Linked DNA regions of Homo sapiens. The protein of the gene in region 1 purifies or fractionates together with the protein of each later gene. This does not show direct contact. Each region holds a gene or a part of one and is shown in the gene's direction. Other genes may lie near its edges.

Region 1 (3,500 bases):
TCAGAGAGCTTACATAGACATATATAGTCGTATAATGTTATAAACTGTAGATTTATAACATAACCTACAGTAATAAACTGTAGATTTGCAAACACTGTCATTTTGATCCGTGTGATTCTTTAGCAAACCCTGTTGAACTGCACTGTCAGTGCAGATGTAAAGCAAAGACTTGTTCAGAGAATTTCTGGTAGTCTGGTATTTTAGGAACATAGAACGAGTAAGGGTGTGAATAAAAGAGGTTCTGAAGCTACCTGGGAGGAAGAACATGTGAATAGTATACCATTGTTAAGAGGTTTAGATTTGTCTGCAGGCCACAGGTAATTATCAAAAAGTTTTTAAGTGATTGCTCAATGGGGAATGAGGAAAGATGGGGAGATGGGCACCCCTTCTTCCCAGGAGACATTCGGCATCATTTTAGGAGAAGGGCAGCTACCTGCATCTAGTAGTTAGAGACCAGGTATGCTGTTTAACGTGTCACAGTGCACAGGACCATACAGCCTCCTACAACACAGAATTATTCAGTTCAAAATGGGAATAATGCGAGGTTGAGAAACCCTGAGTTCGAGGGAGAAGATATTGGGTAGTGGGAAGACCTTTTAGGAAGTTGTGGCAATAGTCCTGTCTGGATTGTGGTTTCGGAATGCGATGAATTTGAGAGGGGCAAAAAGATTGAGAGATTTGTGTGATCATATGGATAGATAGGGACAGTTAGTTTGGGATGATCCTCAGTTTCAATAGTAGGTGATTGGACAGGTTTAAAGGGATACTGTTAAGTGAGATTACTTGTTTTAAGTTTGATGGAAGAGAAGTGGGGTGATGATAAGTTCTGGTGCTATTCGGTTTGTATGTATGTGTTTGATTATTCAGAATACAATGGTCAAATACGTATAATTCAGTATAGCAAAATGAAGTTATTTTCACCTGGAGAAAAAGTTACTGACTTTTTGGTGAGGATGGGGATTGGTAAATCCCCAATTGATAAGACACTTTTATATCAAAACATTTTATCTGTATATTAACATTTACATATTTTTACAGTTTCATAAGTGCATAATTATTTTCATTAGATTATCAAAATGATATGTAACATAGTTCATTAGTCATCTTCTCTCAAGTGAGAAAAGGTCACACAGATCCTTCTTTTAAATCCAAAGTTTGACCTAGAATGTCAGGATGCTAACCAAGAGAGTTCAAGGTTGAAAATAACAATCTTGTGCTCCCCAATCACATGGTGGTTTGGGAACCCTTCATTCAACCCAATGTGTATACGTTCACTCTGTTCACCTCTCTGCACTCCCTCTTTCTTCCTACTCAGTTCTTTCTCATGTAAGGAAGCCTTTCTCTTTAATCCTTTCCCCCTTTTGTCTCTTACAATACTTATCCAGTTACCGCAGGAAAAATCTCTCCCTCCTCTGTACAACCCAAATGGCTGGAATTGTAACTGATTAAGCATAAGCCGTGGAAAGTAGTTCCACAGTTCTGTTCAGACTCATATCACCTACCTCCAGGCTTCCATTCAGTATGTTTGCCATTAAGTACTGGCTTTCTAGATAAACAGACTTGTTGTCCTTCATGTTATTTTGTTTTTGCTTTAATCACAAGAGTTTCAACAATATTTTATTTAATCAGTTACGTGTCTCTCCTCAAAACAAGGTTGTAAATGATTATATACTTTTAGAATAGCCCACTCCGTTACTCAACTTATAGTGTAGTTCAAAACAAAATGTATATCAAATTCCATATAACTGACTATAAAAGAACTTAATAAATGTAATCTATTTGTAATTTGGCAGTAAAATGAGCTTAAGTTCTATGATAGAAGTATGAATGGGGTGTAATCCTAAGGATTGGCCTACCTTGTTACTTCACTGTGTGTGTGCTTGGATGATGCTAATAGGAAAGTGGGTTAGAAAATTTTCAGAAGGAAAATATTGCAGGCAGTAAGCTTAGAGGTTAAGAATATGACTTTGGAGTTCAAGTTCTGCCTTTCCCACTTAATTTAGATGAACAGTCTTGAATAGTTCGCTTATTTAACATCAGTTTTTCAGTCTGTCAAATGGAAGGAAAAAAGTATATTGTAGGGTTGCTGGGAGAATTAAGTGATCTAATAGATCTCCATTAATTAGCACAGTTGTCTGGCTAGTTCAAAGTGAATAAAAGTTGGAGAATACTTGTTCAGTTTCTGTAAAGTTTAGTTGAAGTAAAATCTCCCAAGTTCCATCCACTGGTGAAAATTTAAAAAGATAGTAAAAGTCCTTTGCCCATCACCTTATTGCCATTTTAATAGGAAATCTGATTAAATCTGATTAATTTTTCACACTTTTCACAGTGATTTTTCTTTTTTAATCTCTTACAGGTGATTACTGGTGGTCACTATGATGTAGATTGTCGATTAGAAGATCCTGATGGTAAAGTGTTATACAAAGAGATGAAGAAACAGTATGATAGTTTTACCTTCACAGCCTCCAAAAATGGGACATACAAATTTTGCTTCAGCAATGAATTTTCTACTTTCACACATAAAACTGTATATTTTGATTTTCAAGTTGGAGAAGACCCACCTTTGTTTCCTAGTGAGAACCGAGTCAGTGCTCTTACCCAGGTAAATAAAAAAATCAGCAATATAATGTTGGTATATTTAAAAGGAGGAAAAAAGCATAATTTAATATCATGCACTAACTGATGAGCATGGAATTTTGAGACTGACAGTCTTTAAAATCTATCTTAATTCTTACATGTAGGCATTTCACAGAGAACTTCAGACTTTTGTAGTGAAAAATAATGTTGAAAGATTTTATGAACTTTTAATTGTAAAGAGAAAGAAGCATTAAAATAAGGAGGAAGATCACTAAGGTAGAAACATCAGTGGTAAAAGAAGGTTGGGAAGGCTGAGCAGTGTTCCAATCTTCTGAAGCATTTTCTTTAATCCCTGAAGGAATGTTGCTGTCATACTCAGGAGGCTGGTGTAACTGGAAGCAAAATGATGCCTAAATTAGTAGATAAATAATACCATATCATAGCCTTTATACCATTACTTAGTGTTACTCAAGCTGCTGTAACAGTAACTTGTGCTGTAACTTTAGGTGAAATATTGAAGATTAATGGTAAGTCATCTCACAAAAATAGTTACAAAAGCTAAATTCAGATTTATTTTGGAGACATAGAGAAAGCGTAAAAAATTTAAACCCAGTGAACAACTATTGCTTAGGTGATGAGGACTGTTTTATTTCTAGTTCAAATACAGCAAAATCCAAAATGCTTCAAAATCCAAAACTTTTTTTTAGCTCCAACCTGATGACACAAGTGGAAGATTGTTACATCTGATCTCATGACACATCATTGAAAATATCATATACAGTTGCCTTAAGGCTGCATGTATAAGGCATATATGAAACATAAATGAATTTCATGTCTAGACCTGGGTTCCATCACAAAGATATCTCATTATGTATATGTAGACATTCCAAAATCAGAAAAAATCTGAAATTCAAAGCACTTCT
Region 2 (3,500 bases), on another chromosome or scaffold:
CAGGAGTTCAAGACCAACCTGGACAACAGAGTGAGACCCTGTCTCCAAAAAAAAGAAACGTATATATGTTTCATATATATTGCAACTATGTGATTTTCATATATATATGAAAAGAGAATTGTATGTATCATATATATGAAAAAACAATTGTATTTCTCAACCACAGAGCTGCCAACTATATGGACCTTATCTATTCTGATCAGTTTAATTCCACAAAGTCTGACTTGTCCAGTATATCGTAAAACAAATACCATTGATATTTATACAGATTTATAACAGCGTTTACCTGTAGCAAGATACTGTTAATGCTAAAAGTCCTTACTTATCCTTTGTAAGATGGAGCAACAGTAGATGGGACATGGGTGATGGGGCTAGTAACTAAGTTCAGATTCTGTATCTGGAAACACCAAATCATTAAAGCAGACCACTTTACCTTCCCACCTCTTAGTCCCTCTACGTATTGAAATTACATACTGATAATACCAAGAACAAATTAAAGGTGAATGTTATCGTTGTTCTTTTTAGGGGAAGATTATTAGTTGGTACTTTTGTGGCTCTTTGTTTCAACCTGTTCACGATGCTTTCTATTCGGAATAAACCTTTTGCTTATGTCTCAGAAGGTATGTTTTTTATTTACTATTAATTTAAAAATCCAACTAATCTCTCATAAAAACAAGCCTTTTGTTTGTTTCGTTCACTCAGATCAATGAAGAAGTATATTCTGAAGACAAGAGAGAACTAGCCCAAATGTTCTCAAGTCTTTTTTAAGTGGAAAATTATAAAACAAAATCTCATTAGTTCAAGCTTTAAAATAACAAATTATTTTAAAACAGGCAGGAGTGACCTGTAAATTAAATCATGTGGTGATGAAAAATTACATTTACCAAATAATGTGAGATTCTAAATGTGTAATCTATCTAAGAAAAGTCTATTGTAAGCATTTTAGAAGTATCAGTATACTTAGAATTCTTAGTTGATATGCTAATTGAAAATAATTGTATTCTGTTAATAAAGTAAGTTCCCAGGAACTTCTCTTTGGCAATGGTGGATGGGCATATATGTTTGCAAGTAGCCAAACTTTATTTCTTTGGAAATATTCTTTTATTTTGAAGTATTTACAACTTCAGACTGATTTTTCACTTTTGCAGTCTAAATTATTTTCTTTTTTCAATAATTTCAGTGTTTTGGAATCCCACTAACCCACAAAAGAGTTAGCCACTAAGAGATGGAGAAGTGAGGTGAAAATAGAAGTGGGATGTGTGCACAGACCCACACTTTGAAGTATAGAGAAGCACAGATAGGTGTGGATCTTTTTAGATCTCACTCTAGGATAGTCAAGAGAAGAAAGTTTTCTGAAATGCCCATTCAAGTTTAAACAACTTCATGAATGTTATGAAGATAAATTGTGTTTGTATGAGTTAAAGAAGTACTGCATGAATTAGAAAATTAAATAATGATAATTAAGATCACTAGAATTTCTTGAAAAAAATTCATAATTTATAAAATACTATAACACTTACTCTAGAAATTTTTAAGATGGTGCAAAGATTTAGAAACACTGTTTCCCTGTAAAGATCAGGGAGATACAAGAAGGAAATAAGACTACTGATAATCTTATGACCCACAGATAATATGTTAACATTTCTATGTTATTCCTTCCACTTTTTTGTATGCACACGTACATATAATTTTATGTGCTTACTTAGAATTGTATATATTACAGTTTTATGCCTGGCTTTTTTTTTTTTTTTTTTGAAACGGAGTCTCACTCTCTTGCCCAGGCTGGAGTGCAGTGGCGCAATCTTGGCTCACTGCAACCTCTGCCTCCTTGGTTCAAGGGGTTACAGGAATGTGCCACCATGCCTGGCTGATTTTTGTATTTTTAGCAGAGACGGGGTTTCCCCATGTTGGCCAGGCTGGTCTCACTCCTGACCTCAGGTGATCTGTCCACCTTGGCCTCCCAAAGTGCCGGGATTACAGGTGTGAGCCACTGCGTCCGGCCATGTCTGGCTTTTTGATTAGCATTATGTCTTCAGTATTGCTTCTCATTAAATACTCTTTGAATGTAAATGATTTTTTAATGTTTGCATAATATTGTTATGAATATTTTAAAATATTTTATACATTTCTAACTTTTCCTTTTATAAATAACTCTATAATCAGCCTCTTTAGATCAACTTCGTCTGCATTTTTTATTCTTTCTGTAGGATAAATTCCCCGAGAAGGAATTATTTACTGGATTAAAAATACAGTATTTTTCAAAGGCTTTGTTGTATATTGCCAAATTTATTTCCAGAAAAGTTATCTAGTTTATATTTTTATTATATTATATTATATTTATTTATTTATTTATTTTTTAATAGAGACAAAGTCTACCTGTGTTACCCAGGCTGGTCTCAAACTCCTGGGCTCAAGCAGTCCTCTCACATCAGCCTCCCAAAGTGCTGGGACGACAGGCGTGAGCCACTGCTCCCAGCCTACTTTATATTTTCATTAGCTGGAAATGGAGGTTCCCAGAAACATCAAGATTTGTGACATTAGCTGGGCTTGGTAGCATGTGCCTCTAGTCCCAGCTACTCAGGAGGCTGAGGTGGTTGTATTGCTTGAGTTCAGGAGTTTGAGTTCAGCCTGGGAAACATAGCAAGACTCTGGCTTTAAAAAAAAATGAAGGCTGGGTCTGGTGGCTCACACCTGTAATCCCAGCAGTTTGGGAGACCAAGTCAGGCGGATCACAAGGTCAGCAGTTTGAGACCGGCCTGGCCAACATGGCAAAACCCTGTCTCTACTAAAAAATTATAAAAATTAGCCGGGCATGGTGGCAGGCGCCTGTGATCCCAGCTACTTGGGAGGCTGAGGCAGGAGAATCCCTTGAACCCGGTAGGCGGAGGTTGCAGTGAGCCGAGATCACGTCATTGCACTCCTGCCTGGGTGACAAAAGTGAAACTCCATCTCAAAACAAAAAAAAAAGAAAAAAGATTTGTGAAATTACTTGAAATTTGAGTGGGAAATAATATTAAGTACTTTCTATATGCCAAGCACTGCTAAATACTTTACATAGAATAACCTATTTAATTCTAGCCAGGTAGGTACCCAGGTTCTCACCTGGCTTTTTTGAGAGTTGAGGGAATTAATTTGTATGTAGTTTGAATATCCCTTATCTGAAATGCTTGGGGCCAGAAGTGTTTCACATTTTAGATTGTCTTAGATTTCGGAGTGTTTGCATTATATGTATGGGTTGAGCATCCCAAACCTGAAAATTTAAAATTCGAAACGCTCCTATGAGCATTTCCTTTGAGTATCATGTTGGTGCTCAAAGTTGTGGATTTTTGGTTTTCAGATTTGGGATCCTCAGCCTGTACCTATGGCCCGTTCTCAGCACACTAGTTAGGAAGCTCTGCTTAAAAGTATAAAGAACTGCTGGGCATGGTGGCTCACACCTGTAATCCCAGCACTTTGGGAGGCCGAGGCAGGTGGATCACCTGAGGTCAGGAGTTCAAGAC
Region 3 (3,500 bases), on another chromosome or scaffold:
GGTGCTACATTGTTGATATGCAGTGAAGGTGGAGCAGGGTCTCTAAATATGAGTGAAACTGATTCTTCAACAAGTAGGTATGAATTACTGGCTGTTTTAGCCCATTCTTGCATTGCTATAAAGAAATACCTGAGACTGGTAATTTATAAAGAAAAGAAGTTTAATTGGCTCATGATTCTGCAGGCTGTACAGGAAGCATAGCACCCAAATCACTGGGCTTTGGGGATGGTCTCAGGGAGCTTTTTCAATCATGGTGGAAGGCAAAGGGGAAGCAGGCACATCATATGACAAAAGCAGGAGGGAGAGAGAGAGAGAGTGTGTGTGTGTGTTGGAGGGAGGTGCCACACTTTTATATGACCAGATTTCATGAGAACTCACTATCATGAAGATAGCACCAAGCCATAAGGGATCAGCCTCCATGATCCAAACACCTCCCACCAGGCCCCACCCCCAGCAATGGGGATTGCAATTCAACATGACATTTGGGCAGGGACAAGTATACAAACTGTACCACTGGCCTGATGAAGACACAGCCCATGGTGCCTACAAATTCTCACTACCTAGTAGGCAATTAATATTGGAAAAATTTAGATGGTTAGCGCTGGAAGGCATTCTAGAAAGCATATGGAACCACCTAGAAACTGCTCCATGACATGTAAGCCATCTCATGTGTTTCCTTCACAGGTTCCGATTCAGTGGTAGGATCCTTGGTCTTGCACTAATACACCAGTATTTGTTGGATGCCTTCTTCACACGGCCCTTTTATAAGGCTCTTCTCAGAATGTAAGAATATTTTTATTGCCTGCATAATTAGCATGTAAAATGCAGTATTTACTTTTTTGAAAAAATTCTTCTGTCAAAGTCATTGTTTATCTGTTCACAATCTCAAATTTGTTGTTATTAAACCTAATAGTGGTTTAGATTTCTGAAACTAATGCAATTTCAAATATGATTACTGTGTTTTTCCTGCCTCTGACCTATTTAGCCCCCAGATTTTTAGTTTTGCTCTACCCCCCAAAATTTATTCTCATTTGTTGCAGCATGTGTTTCTTTAAAACAATTGTACTTCAAACACAGCCCTGGGATTCCTGTGGTATTAATGCAGATTATTAATAGAATTGTTGTGGGTTAGTCTTAGTGACTCACAGCCCCCCTCTCCTTTATGAGACACATTTTATATTTGGCTTGATGCATATTTTCAAATGCTTACTCCTCGTTCAAATCTTCATTTTCCTTTGTTTTGGTTTTGTTTTTTATTTGTTTGTCAAGGGTGGACAGTGCCATATGTTTCTTAAACTTTCTCTATGCCCTTAGTAATTTATTATGGAAAATGAAAATTCAGCATTCACAGAACTTTTTCTTCATTGTTAATGAAAGATTGCAGTTATTGTAAAATGTAGGGCTAATTGTTTCTGTCCTATAATCAGCAGCCATTTACAAGGCTGAACAGAAGACAACTGTCTGTGGGATAGTAGCTCAAATTTGCGATGAGAATGCACTGAATTATCACTTGGCTCTGTCCAGCTCATACCCTAACTGAGGCCACGCACTTGCTTACTGTAAAATGGAAGCCTAGACCTCAAATGAAAGCAAACAAAATGCTTCTTGTGGGCCCTTGGGAGGGTCAGTAGAAAGACTTTTGCCTTCTTCTCTTTCAGTGTCTTCACAGCTGTAGCACTGGGGAACAGGTGCCGTTTTCTGTCTCTTTGGTTCTTTGTGGCCCACTTTGCATCTTCCCATTTCATTGCCTTATCTCTTATCTTCTCATTTAAGCTTCCTGAAAAACTAGTCTATACTGACTGTCTACACTTACCTCAAATTCACACCCTAAGCACACTTCAGCCTGGTTTCTTTCCCACCAGAAAACCTGTGGAGGCATTTAAAGAATACTGATTAGTCCGTATCTTATTGGATCATGCTGCTGCTTCTGACACTGTGCACCACCCACACCCGCCACCATTTATTCCTGTGTCTTTCCTTCAGAGCTGGCATCTATGACACTGTACTTTGCGGGTTCTTTTTTTTAACTTTTCTGTCCCTTCATGAGTCCCTCTTCTGATTTGCCCTTAAGTCTTGGTGTACCTGAAGCTTCTATCACCAGGCCCCTCGTTTTCTCACTCAGTGTGCTCTCATGGGGGAATTTCTTCTCCTGTCTTATCTCCTCTGACTCCCAAATCTGTACTCTCAGTCATGATCTCCCTTAAGGTGTAGCCTCACATGGTCAACAGTCCACCAAATATCTCCACTCGGATGTCTTACAAGGATCTCAGAATCAACATGGTTAAGACTAAGCTCATCAAGTTTCCCTACGTAAAAGTATACCTTCTCCCATATGCCCAGTTACAGTTAATAGTGCCACTATTCTCAGGCCACTCTGGTCAGAAATTGGGAGTCACCCTTAAACAGCGATGACAAATACACACGGTACATGTTCTACTCTTCCCCATCTCTACTCTACCCCATCATTCCCAGGGTAGAGTTCACAAATCACCTGTGGTACTTTTTCCCACTGAACTCACTGTGGCCTCAGAAATCTTTTTAACTTATAGTGCTCAAGCCCAGCAATTAATTACAGTTAGTTTTGACATGAGTTCGTTTGTCACCCCTGTTTTAGATATCCTTCTTTATACTCCCCCAATAAAACCATTTCCTGATTGCTACATGTTTGCCTCCTAAATGATTTTCAAATTCATCTTCTTCTCTCCAACCTTAATAGCACAGCCCTAGTTAGAGCCCTTATCTTATTTTGGCCATATTACTGTAGTGGTCTATTCATTGGTCTCTACCCTCTAATGATAACCACCCCTCATCCCACCCCATTTTAAATAATCCTTCACACTGGGACTTCCAGAGGAGCTGTTTATAATTCACATTTCACGTCTGATCATGTCATGCCCTGTCTTAAAATCTTTTGGTAGTTCTGAATCACCAATCTCCTTAGGATGATATTAAGGCCTGCTCCCTTGCTGGCCTCATTCTCTAGAAATTCTGTCTTAAGGTTAACTCTCTCAAACTGCTGATATGCTTGGAGTTTCCTGTACACATCCATGCCTTGTATTTTGTTCATGTTATTCTCTCTTTCTCCTTTCTCTTTCCCCTTCTCCTCCTTCATGTATTCCTTTTTACGTCTCTTGCTTTTAAACATCCTGAAAGATTTAATGTAGGCATCATCTTCTGCAAAAAGCTTTTCCTGAATCTCTCAGTCAAAGAAAAGGCCCCTCATGTGTGCTCTGACACCTAAATCCCTATCCCTACCTTATCTTTTCTTAAATTGAAGTGTGACATAGATTTTAAAAGTACATGAATTTTAAGTGTTACCAATCTTATGTTATCACTTATCGCTTTATATTAACTTATCTGTTTGTGTACTTGGCTCCCCAACTAGCCCATTAGCTCCTGGGGGTAGTGACTATTCATCAAGTAGCTATTCAGATGTCTGGTACATGCTTGATGCCTAATGAATGTTCAGATTGAACTGAAAAAAAATGACCCTTAAAATT
Region 4 (3,500 bases), on another chromosome or scaffold:
AAACACTAACCTCTTTGGTTAGATCAGGTATGCCTGGCTTTTTTGTTTACATTTCTTTTCAAAACCTTCAGATTTTTTTGTTTGTTTTTGTTTTTTGTTTTTTGGTTTTTTTTTTTTTTTTTTTGAGACAGAGTCTCGCTCTGTCACCCAGGTTGGAGTGCAGTGGCACGATCTTGGCTCACTGCAAGCTCCGCCTCCTGGGTTCACGCCATTCTCTTGCCTCAGCCTCCCGCCCAGCTAATTTTTTGTATTTTTAGTAGAGACGGGGTTTCACCATGTTAGCCAGGATGATCTCGATCTCCTGACCTTGTGGTCCACCCGCCTCAGCCTCCCAAAGTGCTGAGATTACAGGCATGAGCCACCGCTCGCAGCCAACCTTGGGATGTTTTTAATACTCCATACACATTAATGCAGAGCTTCTAGTGGGATATTTACATTTTTTTTCAGGCTTCCTGTGTATTTATGTATATCTTTAATAAAGATATGCCTTTTGAGTTTTTAATGATTTTTAAATTATACAGCAATGACAAGTGCTTTTAAAAAAATTAAAAGGAAATTTAAGCAGAATTGACAGATAAGGCAGAAGTTCTTCAATCCCTGTTCTGTCTCCTACTCCCAACTTTGCCTAAACCCCCATTCCCCAGCCAGGCCACTACCCTTAGGAGTTTATATCTTTCTAGACCAGTGCTGTCCAATAGAGCTTTCTGTGATGATGGAAATGTCCTGTATCTGTGCTGTCCAGTCCAGTGGCTTCTAGCAGCAGGGGGCTATTGAGTACTTGAAGTGTGGCTAGTGCAACTGAGAACTGAACTTCTAATTTAATTTAATTTAAAGTAATTTAAATTCAAATTCCCTATGTGGCTAGTCACTATTGTACTGGACAGTGCAGTTCTAGACCTTTGTATATGCTTTTTTGTTCACTCATAGACAAAATACTGATTTGTGTGTGTCTCTATATCATAAACGGTCTTATATGTATGTGTTGGTCTGCAACTTGATTTTTTTTTTTAACTCAGCAGTGTGTCTTGGAGAACCTCCCATCTTATTACATAAAGACCTAGCTCATTGTACTTTTTTTCAAATTCCTAATTTTGTCAGTAATTTCCTTTACTAAAATGGATGTGTCAGGTTGTGAAATTCTTTGGGGTTCCCCCCCTCCTCATTATCTTTGATTTGCCATTAAGTGCTGTGATCATGATAACCCGCTGAGAAAAAGTTTGATTTTATTGAGTAATCACCCCATGTTTTGGATTCTTGGGCATGCTATGATTAGAGGCTTTAAAAACCACACTATATTTTCACCACCATTGGCACCAATGACTGTTAACAAAGGAGCCAAGTGCACCGTGGCCAATTAATTTCAGAAGACTTTCTGTGGGCTGGCTGAGATAGAGCTAGGATAGGGTTCCAACCCTGCACTTGGTACTGTGATCTGTTGCATTGGTTCTCAGACTTCAGTGGATGTAAGAATTGCTTAGAGAGCTTTAAAAAAAGTGTGGATGCATGTGTCCTCACCCCTAGAGGCTGTGATTAGTAGACCCAGGCAGCTGTGCTTTTAAGACATACTCAAGTTGATTCTGTCACATATCTAGTATATTGGAAAGAGTCTTAAACTAGTCCAGATGTCACCTTTGGTATTCACTGTAGCAGTGAGCAAGTTTGTTGATTGTTTTGTATCTTAATGTTCTCAACTATCGGAACAAAAATATTCCTTGCTTTGGTAGCCTTCCAGGTTGTGAAAATAAAAAGACATGTGCAAAATACTTTTGGAAATTAAAAGTTGCAAAGTTTTGTAAAAGTATAAAATTCATCTTAAACTAATGCTATACTATGGACCCTGGTGATGGTAAAGTGATTGTTTGATCCTCGGTTCTCTAAGAGTTACAGTTCAAATATGTGAAAAACTTCCCCAGTCTGAGATACTTGACTCAGCTTTGATGTTCTTATTTTCAACATTTTAAAAAATTTTTATTTCACTTCAAGTTGTGGGATACAAGTGCAGAACGTATAGGCTTGTTACATAGGTATGTGTGCCATGTTGGTTTGCTGCACCTATCAACCCATCATCTAGGTTTTAAGCCCCACGTGCATTAGCTATTTAACCTTAATGCTCTCCTTCCCCTCGCCCCACTACCCCGAGTGGCCTGGTGTGTGTTGTTCCCCTCCCTGTGTCCATGTGTTCTCATTCTTCAACTCCCACCTATAAGTGAGAATATGCGGTGCTTGGTTTTCTGTTCCTGTGTTAGTTTGCTAAGGATGATGGCTTCCAGCTTCATCCATGTCCCTGCAAAGGACATGACTTTTTTTATTTTTTGAGGTGGAGTCTTGCTCTGTTGCCCAGGCTGGAGTGCAGTGGTGCAATCTTGGCTCACTTCAACCTCCGCCTCCCGGGCTCAAGGGATTCTCCTGCCTCAGCCTCCCAAGTGACTGGGATTACAGGCACCCACCACCATGCCTGGCTAATTTTTTTTTTGTACTTTTAGTAGAGACAGAGTTTCACCGTGTTGGCTGGGGTGGTTTCGAACTCCTGACCTCTAGTGATCCTCCTGCCTCGGCCTCCCGCAGTGCTAGGATTACAGGTGTGAGCCACTGTGCCCAGCCTGATCTCATTCCTTTTTATGGCTGTATAGTATTCCATGGTGTATATTTACCACATTTTCTTTATCAAGTCTTATTATTAATGGGCATTTGGGTTGGTTCCATGTCTTTGCTATTGTAAGTAGTGCTGCAGTAAACATATGTGTGCATGTGTCTTTATAGTAGAATGATTTATATTCTTTTGGGTATATACCCAGTAATGGGATTGCTGGGTCAAATGGTATTTCTGGTTCTAGATCCTTGAGGAATCGCCACACTGTCTTGCACAATGGTTGAACTAATTTACACTCCTACCAACAGTGTAAAAGCGTTCCTACTTCTCCACAGCCTCACCAGCATCTGTTTCCACATCTTTTTAGAACCTTTGCTGCATGTATCAATTTTTTTTGACATGAATTTTTGTGAAATTTCCTAGTCTAAAAAAGAAACCGATATCTCAAGTTAAAATCTGTTAGTTATGTTAATTTTGGCATTGGTTTGTATGAAGTTTTAATATTTAAAAAAACACAGCTATATCAGGAAGCTGAAAGTGCTGTGTCAGGTGGAAAATTTTTTTATCAGTGGAGATGTGTTTATACGTTGTCATGGTTTTACTCTAGTCTAGGACATTTTGTTTCAGCCATTTTCTAAAATGGCTGTAGGTTCCATTTATTAATATATCTCTGCTATTATGTAATCTGAGCAGTGATATTATACTTCTTGGTATTGTACATAGAATCTAATAGAGTTAAAAGCTTTTTAATAATATTTGCTGCCACCTCACCAAGTTATGATTGTTAGAAACAGTAATTGCTGTGTTTTGACACTGTCATTTTGTACAGTGCAAGCAATCATTTTTACCACAATTATCACATTTTTTCCACTACCAAATAACTTAACAATGAAGCAAGAAAATATTCTTC
Region 5 (3,500 bases), on another chromosome or scaffold:
TGTGATGTATTCCTGTACGCAACGTTGCCCTGACAGCCAGTCCAAGCTGAGTCTAGAGCTGGCAAGGTGAGCTCCCAGTGGTAAGAGGGAAGTGGTTTGTTCTGCTTTTCTGAGATGTGTTCTTATGAGAAGGATCCAGCAGCAGCCTGCAGAGATGTGGGGCCTGAAAAGAGGCCTTGGGCAGCTCTTCTTGACAGGTCTTGGCCCTCTAGACTGCCTTCAGCACAGTTTTGGGGAGAAACAGGGAGTGTTCCTTTTTCAGTCTATGCACTCATCCCCTGAGCCGCCTGACCCAGGGTTTAGATGCTCCAGGGCAGCTGATTGACACCGGTGGGAGACGGAGTCTGGCAAGCAGGTGATGAACTGGGAAGCGCTGCAGAAATGAGGGGGCAAGCGTGGCCAGTCCCTTCTGAGAGGATGTGTTTGGAAGAGAGTGGGCACTGGCGTGGCACTTTCCCCTTCTGAGGAAATGGACAGGATGCCACGTGGTGCTGCAGTTCTGTGTGGGGCAGGTTGTGGCTGCAGAGAAGCCCTGGGTGCAGAAACAGTCCCCCAAGCAGGTGCGAGGGCCAGGGTGCTCTATGCTGCTCCACACCTGCTGTGCGATGACATGTGGCCACTGGGCTGCCCAGCACAGTTGTTTAGAAAGCAGGTTCAAAGGGCAGTGTGCTGGGAGGAAGTGCTGCTGTGGAAACTGCAAGTTTTGGACATGAGTTGCTCAGGTCTTTTCAGCCGTGCATTCTTCTACAGCAGAATTGCATTATTCACTTGCTCAGTGTGATACCATGTCCTTTAAAAAATTATTTGAATATTGAGAACAGGTTGTATGTTCCGTCTCTAGCTGCTAGATCACAGGCAGGGCACATCTTCTCAAAGAGTAACAAGGCATGGGTTGTGTGTGTTCTCTTCTCTTAGTGAGGAGAAAGGCCTGTTTGGGTTCATGATGATTGTTGGGGTCTCTTTTCTGTACCTGATGTTGGTTGCACAAAGTCCGTTTCCATTCTCTTAGTCTAGACAATTTTCCTGATATTTAAACTGGAATTTTTGCTCCAAGAAATTCCAGGTCATTTAGAATGTGTTAAGATTGAGTTTCTGGGCTACACATCCCTTATAAGAGCACCTGATTCTGGTTTCTGTTTGTTTATTTATTTATTTTTTCGAGACAGTCTCGTTCTGTCACGCAGGCTGGAGTACAGTGGCATGATTTTGGCTCACTGCAACCTCCGCCTCATGGGTTCAAGTGATTCTCGTGCCTCAGGCTCCCAAGTAGCTGGGATTACAGGTGCGCACCACCTACATTATTTATTTATTTAATTTATTTATTGAGATGAGGTCTCACTATGTTGCCCAGGCTACTCAAACTTCTGGTCTCAAGGGATCCTCCCGCCTCGGCCTCCCAAAGTGCTGGGATTACAGGCATGAGCCGCCGCACCCAGCCTGGTTTCTGTTTAAAGAGTTGGATTATACAGGGACCCACAGAATTGGGAACTGACAGTACTGTAGAGCCTGTGTATGAAAAAGATGGACAAGCCTGACATTAGCAGCTCACTGTTGAGCACACGGCCCCCTGCAGAATAAACAAGTGTGTGGTTTCCATCTGATGAAGGTGGGCATGTAGTTCCTGGACAGTCCAGTGACTTCCGTCATTCCACAGACAAGATCAGATGCCCTCTCTACCAGCCACCGTGCTGGGACCGGCCCAATCTGTGTTTCAAGTCAGCTTGTAGCACGCAGGGATTCGAAATATTTAAAGATGAGGTTTGAAGGTAGGTCTGGAGACCAAGGACGTTAGTTCTGGAGGTCCCCGTCTCCTGCGTGTTTGCGGAGCTGGTGACAGTGCCCTCTCCCCGTGCTGGAGAGGGCTGAGGAGAGGCTGTGTGTCTCAGCAGGATGCCAGTCAGGATTCTTCTGGCTATGGGCTTATTTTTTGCAATAAATTCATCGTTAAAGTCCCATTCTTTAACCTGTTTTTTCCCTTTTGGAATTAATTCGACTGCAGTAGGAAGGGGTTGTAGCTGAAAGTGACCGCTGTGCATTGAATGCCATCAGAAAAGGCTGATGAGATTTGCAGGGAAGACTTGAAGCCTCACTGAAATGCGCCTGGCGTGTGTTGACCTTTGCAGTGGAACATGTGGGAAAGGGGCCCGCACTCACTTTTCAGTTCTGCCTCGGTGATTCCAGGAGCCCCGGGGTTGGGAGCGGGGACAGGACCTTGCTCCTGAGTCTTAGGTGTGGTGTCTCTCGCCCCTTGCTGCATTGGCGGGACCCTCGGTGCCGCGGCCTCAGTTGCAGGGCGGCCAGGGCTGCTCCGTGAAGGAGGCGCTCACTCCATGGAGCTGCAGGACGCTGCATTCTCCTCACTCTGGCCATTGCCGCTGTCCTTCCTGCTTCCCCTTTTCTGGTGAGGGAGGGCTCCAAGGACTTGCTGGCTGGTCCCCAGATGCCAGCACTCCTGCATCTTCCCCTCCTCTCCTGGCCTGTCACTTTGTTCCTCCTCTGTGAGGGGCCCAGGCTCGGATGCCCGGCCACGGCCTCTCTTTCCAGCCTGTGCGGCCCAGGTGGGTCCAGGATGTTCCCTGCTGCCCTGTTCTCAGCAGTTCTTGTCTTCTTCAGGCTTTTCCTCCTTGCCTAGAGAAATTTCCCTACATGGAAACCCCTGTGGCTGTACAGTCTTTTCTGACCAGTCTGCTGGGTTTTTTGTTATTTGTTTTTTGTTTTTGAGACAGAATCTTGCTCTGTCGCCCAGGCTGGAGTGCAGTGGCACGATCTCGGCTCACCGCAACCTCCGTCTTTCAGGTTGAAGCAATTCTCCTACTTCAGCCTCCTGAGTAGCTGGGATTACAGGCACGTGCCACCGCACCCGGCTAATTTTTTTTTTTTTTTTTTGTAATTTTAGTAGAGACCGGGTTTTGCCATGTTGGCCAGGCTGGTCTCGAGCTCCTGACCTCAGGTGATCCGCCCACCTCGGCCCCCCAAAGTGGTGGGATTACAGGCGTGAGCCACCGTGCCCGGCCTGCTTTACTATATTCTTTAGGGAATCATGACAATAAAAAAAAGTCTGTGCATGTTCAGTACAGATGCAATTTCTTGTTTTTCTAATATTTTCTATCCACTGTTGGTTGAATCCATGCATGTGGAGTCAACCTATGGTTGGGGATGGCAGACTGTATGTACTCTCCTGATAGGTGGTTACAAAGTGTTTCTACCTGAAGAGACCTGGTTGCAAAGCAGCATGCCCAGTATAACTTTCCTCAGGCCCAGGGAAAAGCTTGGAGGGAGGTTCCCACAGAAATATTAGCAGTGGTTTCCTGGGCCAGTGGGATGAGGACCACACATTGAGCTAGCAGTGGAGAAACAGTGGTGAATAAGGTAGGTCTGGCTCTGTCTCCTGGAACTTACTGGACTGAGGATGAACCTTTCTCCACTAATTTTTGTTCTGAAAAATTTCAAAACCGAAGAATAGTTGAAAGCATAGTACAATGAATATCCCTAGCCTTTTC
Region 6 (3,500 bases), on another chromosome or scaffold:
CTGTCCTGAGCGATGTGGACAGTGTCTGTTGCTTGCTCTGAAGAGGCAGATGACCCCTGGTGACACAGGACGACCATGGAGTGTGACACAAGACACATAGGCAGGGCCCTGGTACCTCCAAATGGCTGATGTGCGGGTTTCCCCTTATTTATAGCAATCTCTGCCTGCAAGTTACAGTAACATTACTAAATATTGGTGGCTTGGAATCTTATTGTCTTTACACAGCACAAAGTCAGATTAGTGCTGGTGGGAAATGGGCCACCTTCCCATGACCTATCAGGACTCCAAGTGAGAACTGAAAGCAGAGAGTTCTAAGAGTCAGGGATTTTCCACACGAGGTTTGTAGAAATCACCCCATCACAAGAATGGAGTCATGGTGGCCAGGGTACCCCTTTTAGCTAACCCCTCAACAAATGTGAATTGAGATTCTACTATGTGCCAGGCACTGGGTATAATCTAGTGGTCAAAGTTGACATGAGACTTACAGAGTGGAGGAGACAGATTGGATATGAATAAATGAATACAGGCATTTATAGATAGTTGTGGTGGGTACTCTGAGGGAAAAGCGGAACATGCTGTGAGAATGGCAGGGAGAACCTGCTTTAGATTCCACAGCTTCTCTGAGAAGCAAGTGTTGAACCTGAGACCTGGAGGATTTGGGGACAGAAGAGAATGAGCTAGTTGCTAATTTCTATGTGGAGTTGCTTTGGAGAGGAGCACTGGGAGTAGTGTAGAGGGCCCATTTGGTGCTGGTGATCGTGACTTTATAGGACACCCATTTATCCAGTTGTGTGGTGGTGTTTTCCCCAGCTACGTGGTGTAGACATGGAAAAGGCACATCTATAGAAGGTTCTTCTGTGCTTTACTGTGTTTTCCTGGAATAATACAAGGAGGAAAAAAGGAACAAGGACTTGGGAGTATTTACAAGAGAGATGCTGTAGTTATAATGTAAGATGGTTGAGGAGGGAAGTGAAAAAAGGAGGAGGCTCTTGGATGGATCTGGTGGTAGGTGTACTTAAGTCAACTTTGACCACTGGGGGTTCTCTCCCTCCTTTGTGCTCCCACAGCCCCTAGTTCTTACCCCTAGCACAGTATTTTTCTCACTTTAGGACGACTGCTTGGCTATTAGCTTGAGTTCCCCTGTAGATGTGAACTTTACAAGGATAAGGACCTTCTGTATTGTTAACTCTGTATCTCTAGCGTTTAACATGGTGCCTGAGTTGATGTCTAGCAAAAATGTGTGGAATGGAAGAAAATTGAAAGCATTATTTGGTCTGATGGTCCTTTGTGGGGTATGGGTAAAGGAACTATGGAAGTTTATGAGACTCATCTGATCAGTAAACAAATCACTAAAGTGGATTTGGCTGGACAAGAAGGGCTTTGAGAAGTTTAGGAAAGGATGGTAGTTGAGAAAGCTGTTGACTTGATTATTATCTGGCATCTACCTTCAAATCTCATTTTATCTTTTAGGCTGTCCAGAAGGGAAGAAAATGGAGTTTATCACCAGCCTACTGGATGCTCTCACCACTGACATGGTTCAGGCCATTAACTCAGCAGCGCCCACTGGAGGTGGGAGGTGAGATTGTGAGCAGGAATCAGGCCCAGGAGAAAAATGTGGGGCCCCTGACTTTTCAAATGCTGAGGGAGGGTGAGAGAGTGGGCAGGGTTTGAGGAGGGCAAGGGCTGGAAGTTGATCTTTTTCCTGAAACCATGTACCCATAGCTTTGACCCGCCTTCTGTCAAAAATCTTCCTGCCCCTCTACCTTCCCTATTCTTTGGGAGCTGCTTGTCCCTAGCTTTTAGTTACCTGATTTATAGGAAAGTCCAGGGCTGTCTGGGACTTCCAGCTGTTTAATCTCAGAAGGTGATGGGTTGGAGTGAGAGTTCTGAATGGCAGGAAGGGTGATGGTTATATCATGGGAACAGGGAGGCAGAGAGGGAGCACAAAGCACTTTGCAATTTTCTTCTCTCCTAGAAGGCAGGAACCAAATGCCTTTTTGGCATCCTGAGAATTCCAAGGAGCTCTTGGCAATGGAACTGGACACTCATATAGCCAAATACAGCTCAGGTCAGGAATTGAGGTGGTAGCTGAGGCAGTCCTGATGTGAGGCTGAAATGCACATGCTCCCCAGTAACCAGCATTGCTGGCACTCATGAGTTTGGGCCCATTAGGCCAGTCGGTTGGAGATGCATGCACGCATTCATCCATCCGCTTACCACCTTTTGAACATGGAAAACACAGCAAACACTGGGCTAAGGATGAGGTATCTGGGGATAGAGGCATGTCCCACCTTCAAAGGATGCAGCTTAGCGGGGATACTAGACCATAGATAGATACTTACAAAATCTGTGGTGAGTGCTAGGACAGAGGTGGAAGAATGGAGAATGGTTGTCTCACTCAGTCTGGAGGAGTCAGAGCAGGCTTCCTGGAGAAGGTGATATCTGAGCTGAGTTTTAAAGAATGGGTAGGACTTATCTACCTATCAAAGAAAAGATAGGTAGATAAAGAAAAGAGAAAGCCATTCCAGAGAGAAGGAAAGGATACTGTGGCTCCAAGAAAGTGCATGTCTGTGGTTCAGTTAGCTTGGGCTGGGGTGGATAGGCGGAGGAGGAGGAAGCAGAGGAGGTAAGAGTGGTAATCGTGAGATGGAAGAGGTGGGCAGGACTCAGATCCCGAAAGTCCTGTGAGACATGCTGAGTAAGACTTCTGCTCATGCTCATGAAGCCAGAAGGGGAAGCACAGCAGAGACTGTTGGAGACAAGTGTGGTAGTGTCTAGGCTCCTTACAGCAGGAGGGGAGGTACTCTAGGCTTGGCAGGGATGGGCAGCCTGCTCTGAACTTATATGGCTCACTGAGGAGGGAGCGTTAGTCCCCCGGCATCTGCCCAGAGGCAGAGCTGTTATCCATAAGGCAAGGAATGCCACAAAGAGAACAAGCCTAGGCCTTGGAAGGACCCCAGCATAGCTCCCTCAGTGGTGATTGGCAGGACCATGTGGTATGTGTTTAGGGTAGGAGTTTAGGGCTCCAAGTGGAGCTGTCGACGTTTCTGCATCCTGAGGCAGAAGAAGGCAGCCATTTTGAAAACCCAATTTTATATCAAATCAAAGTGAGTGCACACAATAGCCAAGATATGGAAACAACCTCAATGCCCATCAATGGATGACTAGATAAAGAACATGCGGTATTTGTATACAGTGGAGTAATATTCAGTCTTAAAAGAGAGAGAAATCCTGTTATATTGGGGGCATTATGCTATGTGAAATGAGCCAGTCACAAGCACAAATGCTGCATGATTCCACGTACATGAGGTACCTGAAACAGTTAGACATGTAGAAGCAGAGAGCAGAATGGTGGTTGCCAGGGGTTTGGGGAGTTGCTAACCAATGGGTGTCAAGTTTCAGCAAAGCAAGATGAATGAGTCCCAGAGATCTGCTGTCCAACATTGTCCTTATAGTTAACAGCACGGTGCTATACACTTAGATGTTTGTTAACAGGCTAG
Region 7 (3,500 bases), on another chromosome or scaffold:
TATCACCTAACATACCATATAATTTACTTATTTATTAAGTTGTTTGTCTCGTGACACCAGAGTTTAACCTTCACAAAGGCAGTGATTTGTTTGCTTTGCTCGCTAATCTATCCCAACCATCAGAATGTGCCAGGCCATAGGTAAGCCCTTAATAAGCATTGTTAAAAGAAGGGAGGGCAACCGAGAACACAAAACCAGTAAGCTTACTTACTAGGCTTCTATCTCATTGCAGATTTGAGAAAGCAAATGAAAGAAGGGATGGGACACTACTTGAATCAGTATCTCTAAACCTGTGTTCCTTGGAGCTGAGTCTATGACAGTAATTGGCCTTGATAAAAATAGCCCTAGAAAATACTGCATATATTATCTATTTACACATTAAATATTCATATTACACATATTACACATAATCATGTTACACATTAACATACTAATTGCTATAAGAGCTCCTATAGTAACCTCTTCTTGAACTCACTTGATCATAAAACTCTCTTTTGGTAACTCACCTACCATTATGGGACCCTTTTGGCCCATGGTAAACTGAGTTTGAGAAAAATCTTACTAGAGTACTATGTGTAGGGCCTGGGAGTGATTGGCAGTTCTTTTAAATTACTTTTGGTTGATGGACTGCACTGCTTCATGTGCTACTCAGAAGGAGGCTGGAGTACATCAGGATCAAGACTCCAGCTCTTAATTACTATTATTCTTTTAAAGGTATGATGCTTCTATTTTTCTGGGAGAAATAAGAAAAAAATAATAATTAATGTTATGGCCCTTTTAAAAAGTTAGCTTCTGTTTTAGGTATTTGGGAATAAGATGATCATTCCTTCCCTGGATGGAGCCCTCTTCCAGTGGGACCAAGACCGTGAAAGCATGGAAACAGTTCCTTTCACAGTTGAATCACTTCTTGAATCTTCTTATAAATTTGGAGATGATGTTGTTTTGGTTGGAGGAAAATCTCTGACTACATATGGACTCAGTGCATATAGTGGAAAGGTAAGTGAAAATGCTGAATTTACTTTGGGGAAATCAGAGTAAATTAGGGTAGAAAAAGTAATTTATTAAACTACACTTATTATTAGTTGAGTTTTATTGTAATTTTCCCCTGAGGTTGTCATTTGTTTTAATAAGAGAACTGTGAGGTAGGAAGGGGAAACTAATAACAGAATAAATGGCAGAGCCAGGAATAGCAGGAGGAAGAGAATTCATAAATATGGTCTACTGTGTCTCAGGTGTTTTTTTTTTTTTTTTTTTTTTTGAGACAGAGTCTCACTCTGTTGCCCAGGCTGATCTCAGCTCATGGCAATCCCCACCCCCACCCCATTCCACACCCCCTCAGGTTCAAGTGGGTTCAAGCGATTCTTGTGCCTCAGCCTCCTGAGTAGCTAGGATTACAGGCACATGCCACCATGCTTGGCTAATTTTTGTATTCTTAGTAGAGACAGGGTTTTACTGTATTGCCAGGCTGGTCTCCAGCTTCTGGCCTTAAGGGATCTGCCCACTTCAGCCTCCCAAAGTGCTGGGATTATAAGCAGGAGCCACCATGCCCAGCCTCAGGTTCTTTTTTTTATACATTATTTTGCAATCTTCACAGTCTTCCTAAGTGTAACTTTCGTTTTTTTTTTTTTTTTTTTACATTTTGACAGATGAAGAACCTTATAAAGATTAATAGTAATCCTAATGATAAGAATAATTGATACTACTCATTTATAGGGTTTGATCCTATAATAAGGTGATCCAAGAGGAAAGTTTATACTCATTTTACAGATGAAGAAACTGAGACTTTAAAAGGTTCAGAAACTTCCAGGGTCACATTTAACTTAGATCTATCTGACAACAAAGTCATGCTGTTAATAATCTAGACTTTCTCCAACATTAGCTCTTAGGATATAATCATAATATAATCTGCTTCTAAGATTGGGTCTTATAAATCCATTATCAAGAGTAGCTAATTAAAAGCATCCTTTCAACCAGGCAAGGTGGCTCACACTTGTAATCCTACCACTTTGGGAGGCCAAGGTGGGTGGATCACTTGAGGCCAGGAGTTCGAGACCAGCCTGGCCAACATGGTGAAACCCCATCTCTGCTAAAAATAAAAAAATTAGCTGGGGATGGTGGCGCACGCACGCCTGTAGTCCCAGCTAGTCAGGAGGCTGAGGTACGAGAATCACTTGAACCTGGGAGGTGGAGGTTGCAGTGAGCTGAGATCACACCATTGTGACGTGTAAACGGTTTATATACAGACTTGGACTAAAATAAGGAAGAATAGAAACGTGGTCTTTTTACTCTTGCATTTTTCAACTTTAACAATTCCTTATCTAAGTGTTAGGCCCATAGCACTTTCTTGCTCTTGCAGATGCTTTTCTGCCTTCTCCACCCACCTGCATCTGCATTGTGTTGAGGAGGCCATGCCATCCTATCTGGCCGTTTTTTGAGCAAAGCACTTCAATCTCTGTTTACTTCGGTAGTCTCATCTGTAAACAACAGGATTGAACCCGATCACCTGGTTTTCCGATTTGATGTGCTGCTACATAATTCTGGTATTGTAGAAGGTATGCTTTTCGTGAGGATTTTAGTTTGGATCATATTAACTCTTCCTTTTTTCTTTAGTGAAAATTTGAGGCAGTTACTTTTGAATACAAAAAGCTCTCAGAAAAGTTTCAAATTTTTAAAAACCAAACACTTTTGTTATACAGAAACTCTAAGGTTGATTTTTTTTTTAACTCACCTGAAATTTTATTAATGATATTGTAGAAAAGCTATCACAAGTAGCTATCCATTTCTTCTTGTATATTCTATGGAAATCTCCAAAGTAAGGCTAAAATTATGTAAATCCTTAAAATCATTCCCTGAAATAAATATTCATTGGTACTGTCATTGTTCTAAATAACTCATTTTAGGAGTTGGTAATCTAACTGATGCTTCTTATGACTTGAGTACTTCATACACATTTCCTTAGTTTCCTTTCACTTTTTAAAAATTACAGATTCCTTTAATATCTCTGATCTATTATGAGTTGTCTCCTTTTACTAATTTTGTATCTAATTTTGTCTTTTCAGGTGAGGTATATCTGTTCAGCTCTGGGTTGTCGCCAATGGGATAGTGACGAAATGGAACAAGAGGAAGACATCCTGCTTCTACAGCGTACCCAAAAAACTGTTAGAGCTGTCGGACCTCGCAGTGGCAATGAGAAGTGTGTATTCAGATAATGTTGCTGTTGGTATTATTTAGAAATACACCTAATACCAAAATTTATCAGATTTCTGTTTGTGGAGATTTTGACTATTTTGTTGCCTTAAAAGCATATATATATATATTTTTTTGATACGGAGTCTTGCTCTGTCGCCCAGGCTTGAGTACAGTGGCGTGATATTGGCTCACTGCAACCTCCACCTCCTGGGTTCAAGCGAATCTCCTGCCTCTGCCTCCCGAGTACCGGGGATTACAGGCACGTGCCACCACACCCAACTAATTTTTGTATTTTTAGTAGAGACGGGGTT

Evidence for each region.
Region 2: the proteins of TMED7 (region 1) and SLC30A6 purify together in Homo sapiens (affinity purification with mass spectrometry; one large-scale study listed by BioGRID and IntAct). This does not show direct contact.
Region 3: the proteins of TMED7 (region 1) and HECW2 purify together in Homo sapiens (affinity purification with mass spectrometry; one large-scale study listed by BioGRID and IntAct). This does not show direct contact.
Region 4: the proteins of TMED7 (region 1) and OCRL purify together in Homo sapiens (co-immunoprecipitation; one large-scale study listed by IntAct). This does not show direct contact.
Region 5: the proteins of TMED7 (region 1) and PDPK1 purify together in Homo sapiens (co-immunoprecipitation; one large-scale study listed by IntAct). This does not show direct contact.
Region 6: the proteins of TMED7 (region 1) and SMOC1 purify together in Homo sapiens (affinity purification with mass spectrometry; one large-scale study listed by BioGRID and IntAct). This does not show direct contact.
Region 7: the proteins of TMED7 (region 1) and EIF2AK3 purify together in Homo sapiens (affinity purification with mass spectrometry; one large-scale study listed by BioGRID and IntAct). This does not show direct contact.

The regions. Positions count from the first base shown.
Region 1 is NC_000005.10:115,619,537-115,623,036, reverse strand, and holds part of TMED7 (transmembrane emp24 domain-containing protein 7 precursor), read left to right. Parts: intron 1-2,356; coding exon 2,357-2,602; intron 2,603-2,617; exon of another isoform or gene 2,618-2,969; intron 2,970-3,500. Other genes in the region: TMED7-TICAM2 (TRAM adaptor with GOLD domain isoform 1 precursor), read left to right, coding at 2,357-2,602. UniProt on the Homo sapiens protein: Potential role in vesicular protein trafficking, mainly in the early secretory pathway. Appears to play a role in the biosynthesis of secreted cargo including processing and post-translational modifications.
Region 2 is NC_000002.12:32,193,364-32,196,863, forward strand, and holds part of SLC30A6 (zinc transporter 6), read left to right. Parts: intron 1-525; coding exon 526-620; intron 621-3,500. UniProt on the Homo sapiens protein: Has probably no intrinsic transporter activity but together with SLC30A5 forms a functional zinc ion:proton antiporter heterodimer, mediating zinc entry into the lumen of organelles along the secretory pathway.
Region 3 is NC_000002.12:196,223,055-196,226,554, reverse strand, and holds part of HECW2 (E3 ubiquitin-protein ligase HECW2), read left to right. Parts: intron 1-684; coding exon 685-783; intron 784-3,500. UniProt on the Homo sapiens protein: E3 ubiquitin-protein ligase that mediates ubiquitination of TP73. Acts to stabilize TP73 and enhance activation of transcription by TP73. Involved in the regulation of mitotic metaphase/anaphase transition.
Region 4 is NC_000023.11:129,571,259-129,574,758, forward strand, and holds part of OCRL (inositol polyphosphate 5-phosphatase OCRL), read left to right. Parts: intron 1-3,500. UniProt on the Homo sapiens protein: Catalyzes the hydrolysis of the 5-position phosphate of phosphatidylinositol 4,5-bisphosphate (PtdIns(4,5)P2) and phosphatidylinositol-3,4,5-bisphosphate (PtdIns(3,4,5)P3), with the greatest catalytic activity towards PtdIns(4,5)P2.
Region 5 is NC_000016.10:2,541,021-2,544,520, forward strand, and holds part of PDPK1 (3-phosphoinositide-dependent protein kinase 1), read left to right. Parts: intron 1-3,500. UniProt on the Homo sapiens protein: Serine/threonine kinase which acts as a master kinase, phosphorylating and activating a subgroup of the AGC family of protein kinases.
Region 6 is NC_000014.9:70,011,916-70,015,415, forward strand, and holds part of SMOC1 (SPARC-related modular calcium-binding protein 1 isoform 1 precursor), read left to right. Parts: intron 1-1,470; coding exon 1,471-1,576; intron 1,577-3,500. UniProt on the Homo sapiens protein: Plays essential roles in both eye and limb development. Probable regulator of osteoblast differentiation.
Region 7 is NC_000002.12:88,592,965-88,596,464, reverse strand, and holds part of EIF2AK3 (eukaryotic translation initiation factor 2-alpha kinase 3 isoform 1 precursor), read left to right. Parts: intron 1-801; coding exon 802-996; intron 997-2,406; exon of another isoform or gene 2,407-2,552; intron 2,553-3,059; coding exon 3,060-3,193; intron 3,194-3,500. UniProt on the Homo sapiens protein: Metabolic-stress sensing protein kinase that phosphorylates the alpha subunit of eukaryotic translation initiation factor 2 (EIF2S1/eIF-2-alpha) in response to various stress, such as unfolded protein response (UPR).